3 linked regions of the Homo sapiens genome follow. The protein of the gene in region 1 interacts with the protein of each later gene in a biochemical or structural test. Each region holds a gene or a part of one and is shown in the gene's direction. Other genes may lie near its edges. The genes, in order: NPR2, NPPB and NPPC.

Evidence for each region.
Region 2: the proteins of NPR2 (region 1) and NPPB form a complex in vitro, tested with the Homo sapiens proteins (3 studies listed by BioGRID).
Region 3: the proteins of NPR2 (region 1) and NPPC form a complex in vitro, tested with the Homo sapiens proteins (3 studies listed by BioGRID).

What each region holds. Positions count from the first base shown.
Region 1 is NC_000009.12:35,794,489-35,801,595, forward strand, and holds part of NPR2 (atrial natriuretic peptide receptor 2 isoform 1 precursor), read left to right. Parts: intron 1-5,129; coding exon 5,130-5,243; intron 5,244-5,533; coding exon 5,534-5,669; intron 5,670-5,900; coding exon 5,901-5,995; intron 5,996-6,220; coding exon 6,221-6,353; exon of another isoform or gene 6,354-6,357; intron 6,358-6,581; coding exon 6,582-6,666; intron 6,667-7,107. UniProt on the Homo sapiens protein: Receptor for the C-type natriuretic peptide NPPC/CNP hormone. Has guanylate cyclase activity upon binding of its ligand. May play a role in the regulation of skeletal growth.
Region 2 is NC_000001.11:11,856,874-11,863,058, reverse strand, and holds NPPB (natriuretic peptides B preproprotein), read left to right. Parts: upstream 1-4,113; 5' UTR 4,114-4,225; coding exon 4,226-4,357; intron 4,358-4,589; coding exon 4,590-4,845; intron 4,846-5,387; coding exon 5,388-5,404; 3' UTR 5,405-5,595; downstream 5,596-6,185.
Region 3 is NC_000002.12:231,923,335-231,931,063, reverse strand, and holds the start of NPPC (C-type natriuretic peptide preproprotein), read left to right. Parts: upstream 1-4,667; 5' UTR 4,668-4,814; coding exon 4,815-4,904; intron 4,905-5,348; coding exon 5,349-5,639; 3' UTR 5,640-5,659; intron 5,660-6,598; exon of another isoform or gene 6,599-7,729.

The sequences.
Region 1 (7,107 bases):
TTATGTGTCCTGGAACAGACACTAAGAACTTTAGTGGCTCAGAGGAGGAAGAGTCAGTGTGGGCTGTGTTTAGGGAAGGCTTTTACACAGGAAGTGAGACCGTATTGTGACTTTAATGATAGATGTCATATTCATAGTCAGAGTGGGAGAGGAGATCCAAGCATCCTGAGCAAAGAGAAAAAGATAGGAATGGGCGTGTTTGAGAGACCAAGAAGATACTGACCCGACAAGAATGAGGGGTTCACTTAAAGGAGATACAGGAAATAAAGTTGCAAAGGTAGAATCAGATTAAGGAGAGCTCTAAGTCTTAAGGCACTAGGACTTGAATTTGGGGTCCTTGACTTTTTGTGTGTGTGTGTGTGTGTGTGGAGATAATTATACAGTAGTGACAGAATTCAGGATTAGAAGAGGGGGAGACCTGGGGCAGTGAGACCAACTGTAACAGATTAGAAGGGGGTGAGGTGATATAGCTTGAACTAGTGTGATGATAGCAGGAATGGAAAGAAACGCATTTCAGATTTCAGAAAATTTGTGGGGAATGTTGGCATGACTCTGTTCATTTCACTCCTGCTCAAAACTTTCAGTGACTTGTGTTCTAGAGAATAAAATCCTGACTCCTTATTGTGACATTTAAGACCTTCTGCAGTCTGTTCTCAAACCACTTTTTCAGTCTTACCTCCTGGTACCCTCATGCTGAGAACTGCAGCCTACCAGGCCTCTGAGTTCCCCCAACCCCAGGGCCTTCCTGCCCCTGTGCCTTTATGTTCTTTTTCCTTTTGTCTGGAATGCTCTTCCTTCCCTCATCCCAAATATCTGCCTCTCAAAATCATACCCATGAATCTTCCCGATTCCCCCGCCACTTTTTTACTAACCGTGCATATAAGTGTTTCCCGTGTATTTATCCATATCCCTCCTTTTTTCCAAGAAGGATTGGAGGTGGCTTATGGGATAACCTTAAAGTCCTTTAAACTCTGGGATTATTTGGTTCGAAGTAGCTGTGTATAAGGGCTGGACCTGGGTGGCCATTCTTCTCCAATAAGGTTTTATGTGGCTGTGATTATATATTTGGTTGCGACTGACGAGTGTGTGTCTGACTGAGAATGACATAGCTGTTTGCATGCCTGAGAATGAGTCTGTGACTGTCACACTTGAATATGGGCAGTGGCAGGGCAGGTTTTGTTTATGCCATAATGTTTTCCTAAAACAATCTTCTCACCTTTGTCTGGGTAATGCTTCCATATTCTTTAAGACTCATACCAGTTATTTTCCTTTCTAGGAAATGATCCCAGAATCCCTAAGTGGGACTGAATTTCCTACTCTTTTGCTTAACTCCATCTACCATAGAACTAACCATATTATTCAGTCTGTGTTTGATTTATTTGAAGGCTGACTCATTTCATTAGTATTTACTGAGCACCTATCATGTCCAGTCACTGTGCTAGGTACTGGTATACAAGGGAGAGCATAACAGACTTTGTTCCTGCCTTTTTGGAGTTTACATTTGGTAGGATGGGCAGGCAATAAATAAGTAAGCAAATAAATACAAATGTAGGAACATATTGTGATGTGTTACTAAAACATAAAGAGGAAAGGAATAGAGTGTTATGAAAAGAGAAGAACAAGGGGATTGTACTTCAGCTGGTGTGGACTGCAGAAGATCTGTGACCCTCTCAGATGGGAGCACTCCATAACCTTCCTGGTTATATCCTTTTTCTTTTTGAGACAGCTCTGTTGCCCAAGTTGGAGAGCAGTGGTGTGATCACAGCTGCTCACTGCAGTCTTGACCTCCCAGGCTGAAGCAATCCTCCCACTTCAGCCTCCCGAGTTGCTGGGACTACAGGCATATGACACCATGCCCAGATAATTTTTTATTTTTTATAGAGATGGGGTCTTATCATGTTGCCCAGGCTGGTCTCGAACTCCTGGGCTCAAATGATCTTCTTGCCTTGGCCTCTCAAAGTGCTGGGATTACAGGCATGAGCCACTGCGCCTTGCTGGCTGTATTCTATTTGTGGAAGAAAAGCCTCACTTTCTTCTGTGAGCATTATTGCCCAGCCAAGAGTCCCCAGCATTAAGGGTAGCTAGAGGAGGGATCTAGTCATCCAATAATCAGTTATATCAATTAACTCTCAGTTCTCCCCCTCACTGTGGGCATTATTCAGACAGAGAAATAAAGAGGGAATCTTTGCTGCAACACAAGAGAAGGGAACTAGGCACCAGGAATATGCTGATGGGAAGGTCAAGGCTTTGGGTAGGTGGGGCTGAGGGGTGATAAGGTGCCCCGCCCCCCACCTTCCAATGGGGAAGCAGGGGAGAGTCTGAGGGAAGTTGGGCAGTTAGCTACAGCCAAGCAAGGATGAAAGAGCACAGAGCCTTTCTCCCAGAGACACTGGCCCTCTGAGGTCCCAGACCAGGCCAGCCTGGAAAAGGTGGCAATAGAGGAAAGGAGGCCTTGACACAGATGCCCACAGCTTTTCCAGGAGGGTATCATGCTCAAGGAAAGGCCTTAGCTCATGCCGTATCGATACTGGCTACTAGGGAGAGAGCTCTGAAATCAAGTATGTTGATATGATTTTTCTCTCCCATTTAGCCACTAGCTGCTCCAGGGCAGGGATCATGCTCATCTTCATATTCCATATGTCTAGCATGTAGTAGGTGTTTAACACATATTTGCTGAATTGAATTAGGGGTGTGTTGGGGAGAGGGGGATAGGATGAGGAATTCACCTAGACAGGAGTAGAGCTGGCAAGTAATGTAAACTAGGTGATCAACCAGGATAGGGAAGAAAAGATTGAGTGGAACTAAATAAGCAATGACCAGGCTCTGAGGATCCAGAAGCCCAGGCTGGTCAATGGAGGACTACAGGGTTAGAAACCCAGGCAGAGGTCACAACCTACATGACCAGCATGAGATTGGGTTACACACAGGGAGCACCAGCGGCAAGAATGGAAGAAAGCACTAAACCAAGGGCTTGGAGATCACTTGTCTCATTAGGCCACTGTTGACCACTCTCCAGTTGGCCAGGGCAAGTCTCAGTGGGCGGGTCCACAGATAGAGGCAGGTGCCTCCTGAGGGTGCACATTTCCTAGGTGTGCTCCTGGCACCCACCCACCACTGCACCCATTTGTGGCGGACTTTGCTTGTTTTTTCCACCTGGGGTCCACTGTGAAATGGGACACAATTATCCTCCTTCACTTTCTCTCAAACCCCTGAGCAAGCACAGAAACTGTTTGAGGTTGGGTTTTTTTTTTTGGTTTGGTTTTTCATTTTTGTTTTTTGGTACTACAACTACAACTAGTAACCACAGCAAAAACAGTTCTAGCATAGCAGTTTAGGGGGACCATGGGGTCAAAACTATTTAAAAATAATACAAAGATCTTATCTGCTTTGTCACGCTTGTTCTTTTGTGATTGTGTAGGGAAGTTTTCCAGAGGTTACATGGCATGATGATGTCATCACTTGGACAGCTATGGAAGGTGTGCTTGTGTGTTCTTGCGTTTTCAAAATTTATCAGTTTTAATTTCTAAGATGGTCAATATTGATAGATATAGTCCACATAAACAAACTTTATTTGGGGTCCTTAATAATTTTTAAGAGTATAAAGCGATTGTGAGACCAAAAGTTTGATAACTGCTAGCCTAACAAACTAGCCAAACTTAGTGTTGAGAATTAGTGTTTAAAATGTGTTAAAAACCTATCATCAGCCTTTATTGAAATATAAATTGTGTTGAACCTGATCTTTTCTCGCCCTTTTCCTGACTTTTTACATTGCTTGTCAACAATATTCTACCTCTTTATTTTATTCTTGGAACAGGTGCTACTGAATGAACTATTTCAACCCTTTCCTCAATTCCCTTCTCTTTTTAAAAAAATTTTACCTGAGACTGGGAGAATGTTAGAAGTGTGTAATCAGGCAGCTAAATGCTCTAGTAAGAATAATGATATCTTGAGGCAAGCTGCAGTCTAATATAATATAATGAATGCATATTAGAAATCGACTTTATTATTTCCTATCTCTAATGAATTGATACATAATAGGCCATATGTGATGTGTCTAGTGCAGCGTATCTCTATGGTCCACATGTACTTTCTATGACAAGAATAAACAAAACTGGGAGAAATGACCGGATTTTAAATTATCATTTCACAAAGTCATGTTTCATAAAATATATTGAACTGAAGTCTTTCCTTGAAGTTGTGATGCCAGTTTCCTGTTGGAGCAGAAGTTGGTCTCAGTGACTATGTGGCCTGAGGCAGGGCCTGAGACTGGGAGGTCCAGCAGCTCAGGAAGGGGAAATGTGTGAGACTAATGGGAGCCAAGCAGGCACTTTGGTGAGAGACAGAGATGCTGACTCATGCGCCAGTGAGATGTGTGCATGTCTGAGATCACATGTGTCATTTGCTTACCTGTGAAATGTGTGTGGGCATGTGACTGTGTGTTTGTCCCTGTGACACATCTATTACTCAGTAAGCAGGACAGTGCTGTTTGTGGTAGGTGTTCCACACATTAAATGGATGAGCACACAGCTTTTCACAGGTGGAATCACTGTCTCAAAGTATTTCCCTCAGTTGTCATAGGGCCTGAAATCTCTCTAATTCACTGGGCGGAGACACTGTGTTCAAGTGGCCGAAATGACAATGTTAGTATTTTACTGATGACATTAACAGTGATTAACATCTCAGAGAGGAGCTGTTAGTGGGTGTTGTCCTTGATCATAAGCAGATACCCAGAAAGCATGGGACAGAGGAGCCGTGTGAGCTGTGGTGGCCTGGCAGGAACCTGGATGCTGGAAGGGAGCTCTGGAAGATGTTGGGCTGGGCTTTGGGGATGGGGTTGACTATTATTTGCCAGTTTCCACCTTCCCAGAACCAGTCCTATCTACCTTTCAGGAGGAGTGCCACTCCCTCTTCCCAGATGTATGCAACACAACACACACACACACACACACACACACACGCACACACACACGCAGAGAGAGAGAGGTTAGTAGCCCTTTCAAAGCCTTCAGACTCACCTGTGTATATTTTATATCATGTATATTTTACCAAGTTTCCCTGTCCTGCATCTTCTCTTCCCATAATGCCTATCTTGAATCCTGTTCACTCTTCCCCATATGCTGCTGGTACAGACTGTATTGGTGATCACGTACCGAGAACCCCCAAATCCTGAGTATCAGGAATTCCAGAATCGTCTGCTGATAAGAGCCCGGGAAGACTTTGGTGTGGAGCTGGGCCCTTCCCTGGTAAGTAGATCTCTCCCTTCCTGAGAGTCAGGTCAAGCTTTGGGGAAGGGCTTCTCTCCCAAACTCAGCATCAAGTCTTGGCTGTGGAGCAAGCCCAACTTTGGGGGGTCTCCGCTTCTGTCCAGGATTTTTCCTTCTGCCCTATGGAGTAGTTAGGAAGGGATGGCACTTTAGGAATAAGAGGGAAGAAAGCAAACCAGAAGAGAGAATAGGTAGAAGGGAGACCCCAGAGAGAGGGGAAGGGGCCTTGCAGGACATTTGGAGAGTACTGCTGAAGTTGCCACCCCCAGATGAACCTCATCGCTGGCTGCTTCTATGATGGGATCCTGCTATATGCTGAAGTCCTGAATGAGACAATACAGGAAGGAGGCACCCGGGAGGATGGACTTCGAATTGTGGAAAAGATGCAGGGACGAAGATATCACGGTAATGAAGAGGGGTCAATGGGGGTCTGAGGGCTGATGTCAGGAATAGAGTGGGCTGAAGAAGAAACAGATGTCAGGATCACCACAGCTTTAGTGGGGGTTAGTGAATATGGCAGAGTTGCCCACACCTCAAGATCGGGGAAGGGTAGACTCTGAGGGAGCCGTAGGCATGAGTGAGTGGGAGAGGAGCCCAGGGTAGACCTCAAAGAAAGGACACTCTTTTCTGTCTTAGGTGTAACTGGGCTGGTTGTCATGGACAAGAACAATGACCGAGAGACTGACTTTGTCCTCTGGGCCATGGGAGACCTGGATTCTGGGGACTTTCAGGTGATGGAGGAGGAGGCAGGGAAGAGAGTGTGGCCCTGCAAAATCCAGCTTTCAAGGGTTCAGTCGGGGCAGAACCAAAACTACTAGATGAGGGATTTGTTTTCTCTGCTGGCACTGCATCCTGGCTGGGTGGTAGGCTGGGGAGAAAAGCAGCGAAACAGCTGGGGTCTGGGGAGGAGGCTGGTGGGAGCAGGCCTGTGGGCCCAGCTTTTTGCTTCCTTACAGCCTGCAGCCCACTACTCGGGAGCTGAGAAGCAGATTTGGTGGACGGGACGGCCTATTCCCTGGGTGAAGGGGGCTCCTCCCTCGGACAATCCCCCCTGTGCCTTTGACTTGGACGACCCATCCTGTGATAAAAGTGGGTGTGTGCAGGGACTGGGAGCAGCTTTCCTCCCTTTGCTTTCCATTCATGGCCTCCACCCTCACTGACCCTCCACTCTTAACTGTGCTTCTGCCTTTACGTCTGCATCCCTCCCTCCTCATTTCTTCCTACTCCCAAGGAGTCTGTCTATGCACCTATGCACCCCGTTCTCCATTCTGCCAAGTCCGCACACAGTCTTCCTCAGGGTCTCTATTTCCCCTTCAGCTCCACTTTCAACCCTGGCAATTGTGGCTCTGGGCACAGGAATCACCTTCATCATGTTTGGTGTTTCCAGCTTCCTAATTTTCCGGTGAGTTCTGGGTTTCTTGCTGACCTACTCCCTGCCCCCATTGCCACACAACCTCTGGCTGAAGCCAGGTGGTCCCTATAATGTGGGATAGGGTAGTAGGTTTCTTAATTTGCTGGTTGTCTCTTAGATCCAACAGCGTCTTCCTCTCTAGCCTTTCTCTTTAGTTGTCGCTTAGCCTAGGTGTTTGTTCCACTTTTGGTCCTAGACTGGATATACTAACTAGTGTTTTTCAGTGGGGTTAAGATCAAAGGTGAATTTTCCATTGGTCTTCTTTTAGGAAAGAACTTTCACCCCCAGTCTCTGTGTTTGTTAGTGAGCATAGGGCATGTGCCAGATATGCCGAGAATGCAGCCTTATCTTCCAGCCCTGTCTCTCAGGTGTAACAGTTGCAGCTTCAGGAGCTGCAGGGAAGCCCCTGCAACCCTGCTGTTGGCTTGGGGG
Region 2 (6,185 bases), on another chromosome or scaffold:
CTCCTCTGTTTCCTCCTTTGCTTCCCCCAGGTGCCCAGTGCTCTCATACCATCCACTTTGGCTGCCCAGGACTAGACTGGAGATTGAGGCCAGAGGGAAGCTACAGAAAAATCTTGCAGCTGGAGTCCTACTCTCTGACTAGTCAAACCTTGTATTCTGCACAGCTTCTTCCTTCTGCAGAGAGCATAGGGGTGGTAGCTGATCCATTAACCAGCCCTTCTAGCCTCTGCTTGTGCATCTGCTCTGCCCAGAGTGCCCTCCCCATCTTCCATCTTCCTTCTTGTGGCTAACTCATTCTTATCCTTCAAAGCCTTAGCCCAGCCCCACCTTCTCCAACAAACTCCCTTCTCGACTGCGCACTCCTGCTGTGCTCACAGAGCATCCAGGACTCACTGCCACTGTATCTGTCACTCACTGTGGCAGCCTGGGGAGCCTGTGATTGTGCCCACCTTTCCCCCTGCACTGTAAGCTTCTCAATGGCAGGGACTTTCTTGTCCGTTATGTATCCCCACCTTCCAGCAGAAATATTAGATTTTAACCTGCACAGTCTCATTTTATGCTCACAACAACCCTATGAGGTAGCCATGAGAAAACAAGGAGAGAGAGGAAGCAACTTGCCCAACACACAAAGGTAGCAAGAAGTTGATGTGAAATTGAGCCCAGACTGTGATTTCAGTCTTGGGTCTGGGCTACTGTGACCCCAGGGTCTCGGTGAAAGTTTGTTGAATGACTTAAGGGTCTTATTTCTTTCTGTGTGGCCAGATTAAGCACTTAGAGTTGGATGGTGGTGGGGAACCAATACTTCTACCATAACAACATTTGCTGAGGGCTTACTATGGGAGAGACACTATGCTTGGCATTTGACATATACTCTATTAATTTCCCATTGCTGCTGAAACAAAGTCTCACAAGCTTGTTGGCTTAAAAGAACATGATTTTATTTTCTTACAGTTCCAGACATCAGAAGTCTGAAATCTGTTTCACTGGGCTAAAACTAAGGTATTGGCAGGCCCATATTCCTTCTGGAAGCTCTAGGGAAAAATCCATTTCTTTGCCCTTTCCAACTTCTAGAGGCTGATTACATTCCTTGGCTCATGGCCCCTTCCTCTATCTTCAAAGCCAGCAGTGTAGTCTCTTCTCTCCTCTCTGACCTGTTCCCATCCTTACATTTTGTCCCTCTGACCTTGATCCTCTGGCTTCCCTCTTATAAGGACCCTTGTGATGACATTGAGCCTTCCTGAATAATCCAGGAGAATCTCTCCACCTTGAGGTCCTTAACTTAACCACACCTGCAAAGTCCTTTTTACCATGTAAAGTAGTATATTCGCAGATTCTGGGGATTAGAATATGGACATCTTTTGGGGACTATTATTCAGCTTACCACAGACATCATCAAATTTAATCCTTGTACATTAATGCTCCAACAGAGGTGTTATGATTAGCTTCATTAAATAGACTTGGAAAGCACATAGCATATGACAGGCCCTCGATAAATGTTGATGGGGCTGATCTGGTGTGAGAGTTAGTTGACAACATATCCTCCTCCCTGGACAGCAGGCCTTGGAGGATGTGTCTAGTTCTGTGTCTTCCTCAAGTCTTCTTCCACAGTCCCCTCCACTGGGGACAGATAGAAACTCTGTCAGAGTGTATGACACTTAGACACTTAATTGTCTCACTTGGGGTCACTTTGTCTCCCCAGTGAGATCACAATCTCCTTCAGTGTAAAGACCAACTCTCATGTACTACTAATTATTTGGCCCTTTATACAGTGCCACGGGCTTTTGCAGATATTATTTTTTTCCTTTTAGTCCTTGCAAGGACTGTCCATTTTGCCGAAGAGCAAAGTGAGGCTCTGGCGAGATGCAGAGTCAGTTTTTGATGGTGCTGGTTGATGAATCCTGCCTTGCTCTGAACCCTTTATCTCATGGTACTCAGCATGAGGGGCTTTCTGCACCCTCAGCAGCCTCTCGCCCACTGACTCCCCTCTGCACTTGGCTGAATTTTCTTACCTCTTTAGCTTCCTCTTAGCCTTTTGATACTCTTACTGTGGCATGCTCATGTGCACGCACACACACACACACACACACACACACACACACAAAACTACCCCAGCCCCCCAGAACATTTCCAGCACTGGTGTCTTTACACAGCCCTTACCCACCCACCTCCATTTATATTTCATCTGCAAAATGCTCATCTGAGCCACTTCCCATTCTTTCTCCTGCACACACAGTCACCACTAGAATTGCACATCCCCCACAGCACAGCTCCCAGAGCCTTCATAGATGACACGGGATTCACCTAAGCTTGCTTTTTGTAGAAACACCTTGTGATCACCCTGGCAGTGATTATGAGCTTCAGGTCTGGAATCAGACTGCTGGCTAGACTAATCAGACTGGTTAGAATCCAGGATTTATCATGTGTCAATTGTGTGACTTTTGGAAAGTAGATTAATTCATGAACACCATTTCCTCCTCTGAAGTGAGGAATAATAACCGTGCTTTTCTCACCTCAGGGGCAGATGCTATTTTTTAGGCAAGATCTGCTTAGAGGTCCCAGTTTCTTATTGCTGCCCTTCTCTGCTGTAACTCTTCTCCCCTCATAGACAGCTCCACTCCTCCAGCCTGCTGCTTGTTGACACCAATTCTCTGGAAGGGGAGTGACATCAGTCATATATGCTTTAGGGGGGTATTTAAGCTGCTATGACTCTTCTCAGGGGCATTTCTCTCCAAAGTCTCACTTCTAATCACCAGGCCACCTGCTAATGATAATTAGATCATGGGTGGTCAGATGAAGGAGGCACTGGGAGAGGGGAAATCCCCATATCTCTGGTATCCCAGCAAATAGATAACCATCATTCCAGCCATCCTTTTGTTTTCTTTCTTTCTTTCTTTCTTTCTTTCCTTCTTTCTTTCTTTCTTTTTTCGCTCTCTGTCAACCAGGCTGGAGTGCAGTGGCGTGATCTCAGCTCACTGCAACCTCCACCTCCTGGGTTCAAGTGATTCTCCTTCCTCAGCCTCCCGAGTAGCTGGGACTACAGGCGCCTGCCACCATGCCCAGCTAATTTTTGGTAATTTTAGTAGAGACGGGGTTTCACCGTGGTCTCGATCTCCTGACCTCGTGATCCGACCGCCTCGGCCTCTCAAAGTGCTGGGATTACAGGCGTGAACCACCATGCCCAGCCTATCCTTTTGTTTTCCATCCTGTGTTGGCTTGGTGGGGGAGAGGAGGTGTTGACACGTGGAGGACACACATATAAGGCATTCTTGGGTGACTTCGTCATCACTGGACCCTATCTCTCAAAATTCCAGCGAAATCTGCTCTTCCCTTTAAGGAGTGAAAGAAGGGTCAGCATTCCAGAAGTTCCTGGTCATACCCAGGCTTTTAATGAATTGCCACTGGGGAATCAGCATCCCGTTGCTGTAAGGACTATAAGATGGCGGATTGTGAGAGCATAGGGAAAGGTCTCGGAGGTCTCTTGTCCTTGCTCCACGCAGGTCTTTCTGGCCTGAAAATCCCGTTGAAGAGAGCAGCTCTTGAGAGTTTGCTCCAAGTTCCCTCGGGGTGATCAGCACCACGGACAGCGGCCAGGGCGCCCCCGAGGACCCGCAGGCAGGCAGGGTGCACAGCGGCGAGCAGGTGCTGCGCTACGTGCGGGCCAGGGAACTCGCGCGGGGAGGGGAGAGGCGCCGCGGGTGGCGGGGTCTTGGCCGGGGCTGTTTTCGCTGTGAGTCACCCCGTGCTCCCCGCGCTCACGTCGGTCCTCGGAAAGCCGGGGTCCTCCCTGCCTTTTCCAGCAACGGTGGGGTGGGGAGGCAGGAAGAAAGCGCCAACCTAGGACACCTGGACATTTGCAGGAAAGGAAGAAGCGGGAGACGGGGACTTGTCTGTGTCTCCAGCGCGTTCCTGCCCCCCGGCCCGACCCGGCCCATTTCTATACAAGGTCGGCTCTGCCCGGTCTCCACCTCCCACGTCGCAGGCGCGGAGGGGCTCATTCCCGGGCCCTGATCTCAGAGGCCCGGAATGTGGCTGATAAATCAGAGATAACCCTGCATGGCAGGGCAGGCCCGACACTCAGCTCCAGGATAAAAGGCCACGGTGTCCCGAGGAGCCAGGAGGAGCACCCCGCAGGCTGAGGGCAGGTGGGAAGCAAACCCGGACGCATCGCAGCAGCAGCAGCAGCAGCAGAAGCAGCAGCAGCAGCCTCCGCAGTCCCTCCAGAGACATGGATCCCCAGACAGCACCTTCCCGGGCGCTCCTGCTCCTGCTCTTCTTGCATCTGGCTTTCCTGGGAGGTCGTTCCCACCCGCTGGGCAGCCCCGGTTCAGCCTCGGACTTGGAAACGTCCGGGTTACAGGTGAGAGCGGAGGGCAGCTCAGGGGGATTGGACAGCAGCAATGAAAGGGTCCTCACCTGCTGTCCCAAGAGGCCCTCATCTTTCCTTTGGAATTAGTGATAAAGGAATCAGAAAATGGAGAGACTGGGTGCCCTGACCCTGTACCCAAGGCAGTCGGTTCACTTGGGTGCCATGAAGGGCTGGTGAGCCCAGGGGTGGGTCCCTGAGGCTTGGACGCCCCCATTCATTGCAGGAGCAGCGCAACCATTTGCAGGGCAAACTGTCGGAGCTGCAGGTGGAGCAGACATCCCTGGAGCCCCTCCAGGAGAGCCCCCGTCCCACAGGTGTCTGGAAGTCCCGGGAGGTAGCCACCGAGGGCATCCGTGGGCACCGCAAAATGGTCCTCTACACCCTGCGGGCACCACGAAGCCCCAAGATGGTGCAAGGGTCTGGCTGCTTTGGGAGGAAGATGGACCGGATCAGCTCCTCCAGTGGCCTGGGCTGCAAAGGTAAGCACCCCCTGCCACCCCGGCCGCCTTCCCCCATTCCAGTGTGTGACACTGTTAGAGTCACTTTGGGGTTTGTTGTCTCTGGGAACCACACTCTTTGAGAAAAGGTCACCTGGACATCGCTTCCTCTTGTTAACAGCCTTCAGGGCCAAGGGGTGCCTTTGTGGAATTAGTAAATGTGGGCTTATTTCATTACCATGCCCACAATACCTTCTCCCCACCTCCTACTTCTTATCAAAGGGGCAGAATCTCCTTTGGGGGTCTGTTTATCATTTGGCAGCCCCCCAGTGGTGCAGAAAGAGAACCAAACATTTCCTCCTGGTTTCCTCTAAACTGTCTATAGTCTCAAAGGCAGAGAGCAGGATCACCAGAGCAATGATAATCCCCAATTTACAGATGAGGAAACTGAGGCTCAGAGAGTTGCATTAAGCCTCAAACGTCTGATGACTAACAGGGTGGTGGGTGGCACACGATGAGGTAAGCTCAGCCCCTGCCTCCATCTCCCACCCTAACCATCATCACCCTCTCTCTTTCCCTGACAGTGCTGAGGCGGCATTAAGAGGAAGTCCTGGCTGCAGACACCTGCTTCTGATTCCACAAGGGGCTTTTTCCTCAACCCTGTGGCCGCCTTTGAAGTGACTCATTTTTTTAATGTATTTATGTATTTATTTGATTGTTTTATATAAGATGGTTTCTTACCTTTGAGCACAAAATTTCCACGGTGAAATAAAGTCAACATTATAAGCTTTATCTTTTGAAACTGATTTGTCTTGGCGCATTAAAAATAATCCCTCATTTCAAAGAAACCAACCCAACTAAAACCACAAAGCCCTGTGATCTCAAGGCATCTTCATGGTGGGATGAGGATGTGGCCTCAGAGGTAGCAGGCTTTCTTTTCTTTCAGAGTTTTTAATGCTCTGAAATGTTATTGAATATCTCAAGCACTTGAGGCACTTGGGAGAAACTGCTTTTCAAAGCAGGGCAGGATACGTGTGCAACCTGAGGGCACGTATCCAGCCGTTTTCTCCACTCGTCCTTGCTCTGCCTGGAATTCCACCATTAAAGCACTCTCCCTGGGGATTATTGCTTTCAGGTCTCAGCTAAAATGTCAACGACTGGGGGCAGTGTGTGTGGGTGTGGCTCATCTACATTCCCATACCGGGGTGAGCCCTCCATCCTGCCCCAAATATCAGCTTTGAAACTCCAATTCCTGGGGTCATCCTGCAAAGGAGCCTTCAAAACTCCAACCCACAAAGTGAGAGGGGTCTGGCAATCAGCCCAGCTTTCCAGGGTGCCCCTCCCCTGGGGCTGCATCATCTCTTCTCTTTGCCTTAACCAGT
Region 3 (7,729 bases), on another chromosome or scaffold:
TCACTTTCTCAGGGCTGAAGCCTCTCACTGCCCCACTCACCTGCCCTTTGACAGCCAGATGGAGAGCTGTTGATTCCCCCAGGGAAGTGAGCCTATTTGTGGAGGACCTGTCTTTTCTTTTTGGCAAGCAGGGGAAAGGAGGAATGAACTCTGACGTCATGGACTGCGTAGGACAGTGGGGTTGGAGGCCATCTGGAGCAGGTGCTGGCAGGACCCCTGGGAAAGGGAAGGAGGGCAGCTGGCTCATCAGATGGGGGTGTCCTGGGGTCAAAGACTCATGGTACAACGAGGTTAAGCTTTCCTGGAATCTCTGGCCCGTGAAGGATGAATGACGCTTCCTTGGCCTCCATCTCCTCCAGTACTCCAGTCCAGCGCCATGGGTGCAGGACTCCTGGAGGAAGGTACCAAGCTCAAGGAGACCTGGCCATGCCCCGGCCTCTGTGTGCTCTGAGGGGCTGCACCACTAAACAGTCCTGGGGAGTTTCGGGGGCTGTGGGGGTCCTCTCACCCAAAAGTATGTGTGGACATGCAGTGACATTCAGATCTCTCTTCTGCCTCAGCTGTCTCCTGCTGTGTTTGGCCAGGGAGAGGTTGGAAGCCTCTTATCAGGCCCCAGATTCACTCTGCCCTGTCTAGAAGACAAGGACAGTGTTTTTCTAATTACAGGTGGTGAAACTGAGGGCCCAAAGCAGTGACGGGACTTGGCCAGTGTCCCGCAGCAATTTCCCTGCCTGACCTCAAGACTCGCTCACTGCCTGTTTAGTGTCTTCTCTGAGAAATTATGCAGCTGGAAGGGGGCCCCGGGATAAACAATTGCAGAGAAACAGATGGGCGGCTCTGCAATCCTCCCCTCCAGTGTGCCTGAGAGCCCTCCCCTGCAGCCCTGGGGCCAGGAGGGGGCGCTGCTTCGCGGGGCTCCTGTTCCTCCCTCCTGGGGACCTAGGCTGGACAGTCCTGTCTTAGCTGCTCCTTCCCCAGCCTCCCAGCAGCCCTTCCACACGCCTTTCTCCCACCAGGCATCCTGACCAGGGCCCACTCTCATTTTCTATCACATCCTGATTCCTGGCCAGACATCGCCTGTCCCAAGGAAGGGCCCCTCTCCAGTAGGTGTCAGAGTCGCACCTTGCCCTTCTGGGAGGAGGGAAAGAGTGAAAAGGGGCCCACAAAACGGGGTCCCGCCCTTCAGAGGGCCAGAAGGGAGAAAATGGTCCCACCCATGCAACTCTCCGACGCTGAAGGCCCTGCATACCCCCAGCCTACTGTGGCAGAGCTGATACCCTGGACTCGCCCATGCAACTCTCTGACACTGAAGGCTCTGCATGCTTCAGGCTGGCTCTGCCTCCCACTTCCTGCTCCCTCCCACTTCCCCCACACCTAGCTGACCCCCTTCCCCTTGCCTCATCTTCAGGCACCCCCAATAAGCTCACTTGCCCTTCCCACCCCCAAGAGCTCAGCAGGCTCCTCTCTCTCCATCACACCCCCCACCTCCAGAACACCATCGACCTTAGAATTGCCTCTCCCTAGTCTGCCTCCTCTGGGCACCCCTGCCTGAAGCACTCCACCCTCCCGAGGTCTGGGCACATGGGGTTCTGCAGTCTCATCGGCCTCCCCTGCCCTCTGTGTTGCCCTTTGGTGAGGCCTCTCATTTGGTTTTTCTCAAACAGCACCCCTCTAGGCCTGACTCTAGTACATTCCACTGTTAGCCTGGTTTTCTGTCGAGGTTTTCCTCTTCTCTTCCCTTCTCTTCCTGTGTTTCCAGGCTCAGCACAGACTTTTCCTTCTCCAGGAAGCCCACCCTGCTAGTCCAGGCTGGAGGAGGAGCCCTCCTTGGGTGGCCTCAGCCTGACCTGTCCCCTTCCCTGTCATTGTCCTTTTCAGCCTACAAAGCTCATGTCTGTCTGCTAGGGGGTTCTTCCCGGCTGGATGGAACCCTGCAGGCTTCAGGGATGCTCAGTAGATACCGGGAGATCAGCGAGATCAGTGAGAACGACATGATTCCTTACAGAATTACCGCGGCCTTGGGGCCTTTTCTCCCTCTTTTGCCGTTAGGAGGAAATTTAAAATTGAGCAGTCAATAAAATGACTTGAATAGCTCATATTCAGCTGCTCAGTGAGTTCAACTTTCCCAGGCCATGCCCCTGGGGCCTGGGGCAGAAGAAGCAGACTTCGTAAGGGAAAAGCAACAAAAAGGGACCTGAGTTCCAAATCTAGGCTCAGGAGGAAGAGTGGGCGTCCTCTGCAGCTCCCCAGGCAAGGAAAGCAAAGGGAGAGGGGAAACCTTCATCTCCAAGGCAGTTATGTGCTGATGGCACACCTCCCGGTGGCCCCTCCTGCCCAGGCCTCTGACTCTTACCCACCCTGCCTCCCAGGCCCCAGCTAAGCAGAAGCTGCTCCACAGCCTGCCCCCCGGGAAGCCTCCCTCTGCAGATGACCACCGCCCAGTGGTCAGGAGTGGCAGCTCACCAGATTTCCCTTCCAAAGATGGGAAGGTGAGTCCAGGGAATCGGCTCTGCCACAGTAGGTTGGGGGTGTCAGTTTTATTAATTTAGCCTCAAAGTTCAAACAGAGAGGAGACCTAGATAGTCAATCACCTGGACGCGAATGTGTCTAGGAACACAGAAGACAGGAAGGACCAACCTAAGGACGTTCAGACAGAAGGAAGTAGCCATGAACAGCGGAAGATTTCCTTAATAAGGGGCTTTAGAGGATGTACTGCTGGCCCCTGGAAACCAGCCCAGTGCTTGACTCTAGAGTCAGTCTGTGTGGCTCTGCCTGACTCTTTAAACAGGTATAAAGAAAGCAAGTGTCAGAGAAGTTCCAGATGGTAACATCCTTCTTTGCACAGCAGGCAAAAAGCAGAGGGAACTTTCACAGCCCACCTGGATACCCCTCCCTATACTGCTTTCTAGTTCCTCTTCCTTTCTCCTCAAATGAAAGAGTGGTGCCACTCTATGGGTGTTAGCACGGAGAGGAATTGGGGGGCTGCGTGGAGGTGGTGACTCAATTCACCAGAATCCACAGAAGGTGCCCTGTTGATGTCTGGATCTTCCTGGAGATCAGGAAACTTTGCTGCCCCAAACTCAGACCTCAGGTGTTAGCTGTTTCCTAAGCAAAGTGACCTGTGTAGTGGTTGCTCCAATGTTGTGAGTCAGGGTATGAGAGTGGGAAGGGGTAGCCTGAGAAAGGTGCCGACAGAGCAGACCATGATGCGGCCGCCTTAGCAGCTCTGGGACCAGGCTCACTACCACGGAGGGAAGAGGGAGGCTTGGAGGGAACCTGGTTCTCCAAGCCCCTCTTCACTCCAGTTGCCTTCCTGCCTCAGGCACAGCTTCCTCTCCCTGGAAAATCTCGTCTGGGCTACTGTCTCCCCAGAATCGCCTTCACGCCTGGGGACAGCCACTGCACTCCTGCGGCAACATTTGTTCTCTCTCCAGCCTGCGTCCTGCTCAGCAGCAGCCAGTCATAGATTCCTGCTCTTCAATCAATTCGGGGGATCTGGGCTCTCCGCCTCTGCGGCCCACACCGCAGTGCCCAAATGCCCACCACACTCCTTAGTGTCCAAGGGACCGAGAAGCCCAGTGCAAGGAGAGCAAGTTCGTGAGTGGTAGGGATATGTGGCCATGTCCCGAGAGCCACGGGGACCTCTCTACAGTCAAAAACGGGAAGTTGACCACCTGTCACGGCTGGCAGAGGCTGGACTGGGCCGCTGGCTAGGAAGCTCTCTCCCCAGCCTGTGAAAGTGCACAGGATACTGGAGCGGGCTTCCCCCAGCAGCGGATCCTCGCGTGGGTGCAGGCAAGGTCAGGTGCGCATTGTTCCCACAGAGGGAGTTCACCAGCGGAGTCAGACCCCGGGACGTTCTGTGTGGCCGAAACCGGCTGAACGTGAACCTAGAGCAGTAACTGGCGAGCATACGATGCCGCGGAGCACACGCATGAGCATGAATATCTTGGTTCCGCGCTCGCAGTCCCCTCGTTCCCGCCTTGCGCTCAAACACTCAGGCTGGCGACACCCCTGCACTCTCCAGTGTGGAAGACTTGCGCTCCCCCCTGCGGCCCAGGCGAACCCCGCTCTCCCTGCGCCTCCCACCCCAGTCCTCCAACCCCATCCTCTGCCTCCCCAACCTAACGACGTCGCTGTGGTCTGCGCTCCCGCCCTGACCGGCAGGTGAAAGGCGGAGCTGCAATGCCATCCCGCGGCTGTCAGGTGCCCAGGGAAGAGTTTGGCGACAAGCAGGGCTGCGTGGATTTCGGGCAGCGCCAACTTTATGCCTGTATGACTTTGGGCAAGTGACTTCATTCCTCTGAGCCTGTCTTTGCACCTGCAAAGAGGGCTACGTATCCCTTCCAGGTAGAGTGAGTGCGATGAGGACCTAGTGGGTGCACAGGGCACCAGGCGCACCGATGCTCGGCAGGCCAGGGCGCGCGCTCGCTGCAAATGGAGTTCCCCTGTGCGCTCAGCTCTGCAGCTCCAAGTGCAGCCTGGAGCGAGCCCGCCGAGCCGCGGGATCCCTCCGGGGTGGGATAAGGGAGGGGAGCCCCCGCGGCCCCCTCCCGGCCCTCGGCGCGGCCGCGTGCGTGGTGTCATTGGCCCGGGCGGCCCGGTGGGCGGGAGGATGACATCAGCGGCAGGTTGGATTATAAAGGCGCGAGCAGAGTCACGGGCTCAGAGCGCACCCAGCCGGCGCCGCGCAGCACTGGGACCCTGCTCGCCCTGCAGCCCAGCCAGCCTGCTCCGCATCCCCCTGCTGGTCTGCCCGCCGACCTGCGCGCCCTCGCTGCCGCCCGTGTGCGCCCCTCGACCCCAGCGGCACCATGCATCTCTCCCAGCTGCTGGCCTGCGCCCTGCTGCTCACGCTGCTCTCCCTCCGGCCCTCCGAAGCCAAGCCCGGGGCGCCGCCGAAGGTGGGTGCTGTCGTGGGGACGCCGAGCCTGGGAGAGGCGTGGGAGGCTGGGGGCTTGGAGAATGCGGCGCGCAGGACCCAGGAGAGAGGGAAGGCAGGCGGCTGTCTCCTCCGAGATGCGCGTGGGCGAGAGCCGGGGAGCCCTCGAAGCGCGGATTCGGGGGTCCACTTCTCCAGCCTCCGGAGAACATCGGCCCATGCGCAGCCCCCTACCCCAGTGTGGCCTGCCCGGCGAGCAGCAAAGGGAGGGCAGGGGGCTTCCGGAGGGAGCGGCGAAGGCGGCCGCGTGGCAGGTGGATGCGGGGCCAAGCTGGCCGGCATCGGTGGGGGCGGCTCTGGGCTTGGGAGGGACACCCCGCGCCGGCGGGCGCGTGGGGCTGGAGCATCAGAGTCCCCCGTGCTGCAGCCGCGTGTCCCTTCACCTGCCCGCTCTTTCCTCGGACAGGTCCCGCGAACCCCGCCGGCAGAGGAGCTGGCCGAGCCGCAGGCTGCGGGCGGCGGTCAGAAGAAGGGCGACAAGGCTCCCGGGGGCGGGGGCGCCAATCTCAAGGGCGACCGGTCGCGACTGCTCCGGGACCTGCGCGTGGACACCAAGTCGCGGGCAGCGTGGGCTCGCCTTCTGCAAGAGCACCCCAACGCGCGCAAATACAAAGGAGCCAACAAGAAGGGCTTGTCCAAGGGCTGCTTCGGCCTCAAGCTGGACCGAATCGGCTCCATGAGCGGCCTGGGATGTTAGTGCGGCGCCCCCTGGCGGCGGTGAGTACGGCCCACCCGACGCCCAGCCCCAGCCCGGCCCGGGACCGCCCGCCGCCCAGCCGGCCTTCGGAGGCGCGCGAGCCGCCTTTGCTCAAGTTGTGCTAGGCGTTTGCCAGCCGCCCCCTTTATTATCCCACTTTACAGACAAAGAAAGCGAAGGATAACGTGATCGGGGAACTTTGGCAAGGTCAGAAACGGCTCAGCCTGGTTGAACCCACCTGGCTTCTTCTGGAGAAGCAGAAACAGGCTTGGTGGTGTCTCACCCACCCCTGAACCGTAGCTGAACTAGCAGCACTGGCCCCTATTGGCCAGCTGGTGGGGGGATTGAGAGGAGATCATGGGTTTGTGGGAGCAGAGAAGGAAGGTTACACCCACAAGTCCAGGGGACATCGATCATCTGCTGGCCACCATGCCCCCTGTAGTGAGAGTAGCCCTCTGCTGGCACTGTCAGAGCGCCCTTCTGCCTGGGACACTCCGATTCCTGTCCCTTCTCTAAACCCAGGCAGTGGGCAAACTGGTCTGTCCAGGGTCCTGAGGCAGCTGCAGCCTGGTGGCTTCGGGGGTGAATCTCAGTGCTTGTGGCACTATTTCAGGGAATAGGAAAGACACTAAAGTAAATATTATTTGCCCCAGCCTCGAACTCAACACGTCCCAGAGTCCCTCACCAACCCTGTCCCGACCCAACCGGTGCTCTGGGCTCCGTTTCTGGTGTGGGGTCTCACCCCGCACTAGGGCTGGAAACCTCTGCCCTACCGCCACCCCCTGCCGGGTGCCGCGTGGTGGTAATTTACTGCTGCAGAGAGCCTCACCTCTCCTCTTTCCCTCCTCTCTATTCCTGCCGCCTGCCCGTGCCCACTGAATAACATCCCAGCCTCTGACATTGACAGTCATGTGCGTTAGGATCAGGCTTACCTGGCTTTCTCGCTTTCTTGCCTCCAGCTCAGCAGCTGCCACTGCCTGTCCCACACCTTGACTGTCCCATCCCAGGCTACGGGCAAGCTGCTGTCTCCTCCCCAGAAACCCTTGTCAGTGTCGGATCTTCTCCCGGAGGGAAACAAGAGCGCCTGTCCAGCACACTGTCTCTTTTTTACAGTACAGAACACTTTTTCACAGTTTGTGAACCCATTCACCTCTCCATATTGAACAGCTTAAGGGCGAAGTGCTGGCCTAAGGCACTCTAGGACCCACTGCACCCCGAACAGACTCGTGGAAATATTTGTCAATGACCAGAGAAACCAGCACACCCTGGCCCATGGCCACTCCCACCTGCCCGAGGTTTTAACCAGTGCCCTTCCTCTCTTTGCAGCCAGACCTCACTCGGCTGTGGGCCTCTCCCCAGTTCTGCAAAGGCTGTAGTTGTCTGTGATCTTGACTCTCCCCTGCACAGGGAGAAGAATGATTCTGACACTTGGGGACCAGCCTTCAGTAGCTACCCTTGGAATGCCTTTGCTCTCTTCTCTCCTGTCTAAACAACAAAGAGACGGAGTCTGAGGCCTCAAATTTTCAGTTTGATTTAAGCATCAAGTTCAAACTTTAGAACCTGAGCAAATGTTAGTGACTCTCCATTGGTTCGTACCTGGAATGCGCATCCCCACAGGGGCTTTGTTCTTGGGCCTGGATGTCTGTGGTCACCAAGTGATGGCCAAACGGGTGGTGAAAGATGCTGTGTAGGAGGAATCCACATTGTTAAGAATTCTCGACCCCTTTGATCAGGGGGGTTCAATAATCTCCTACCAGCTCTCTTAGCATAGATGAACACTTACCGTCGACACCTTCAACACCGGCTTACGCCCAACACCAGCTGTTTTATTATTATTTGGGAAGGGCGGTGTGGATTTATTATTTGGGATTTTTTAAATGAAAAATAAAAACCCCACCCTCACTGCCCCCCATTCCCAGTGAGAGAGCAGAACATCATTCCTGCAGGCTCCTGGTGACGATGCCCAGGATATATCACTGGGCGTAAAGAGAAAGACAGCTTAGATTTTTCACATTAATGAAAACTCTTTGAGGTTGTGGCTGTTTCTCCACGCAGTGGGTGACCTGGGCTCTAAGCCACCGTAATGATGG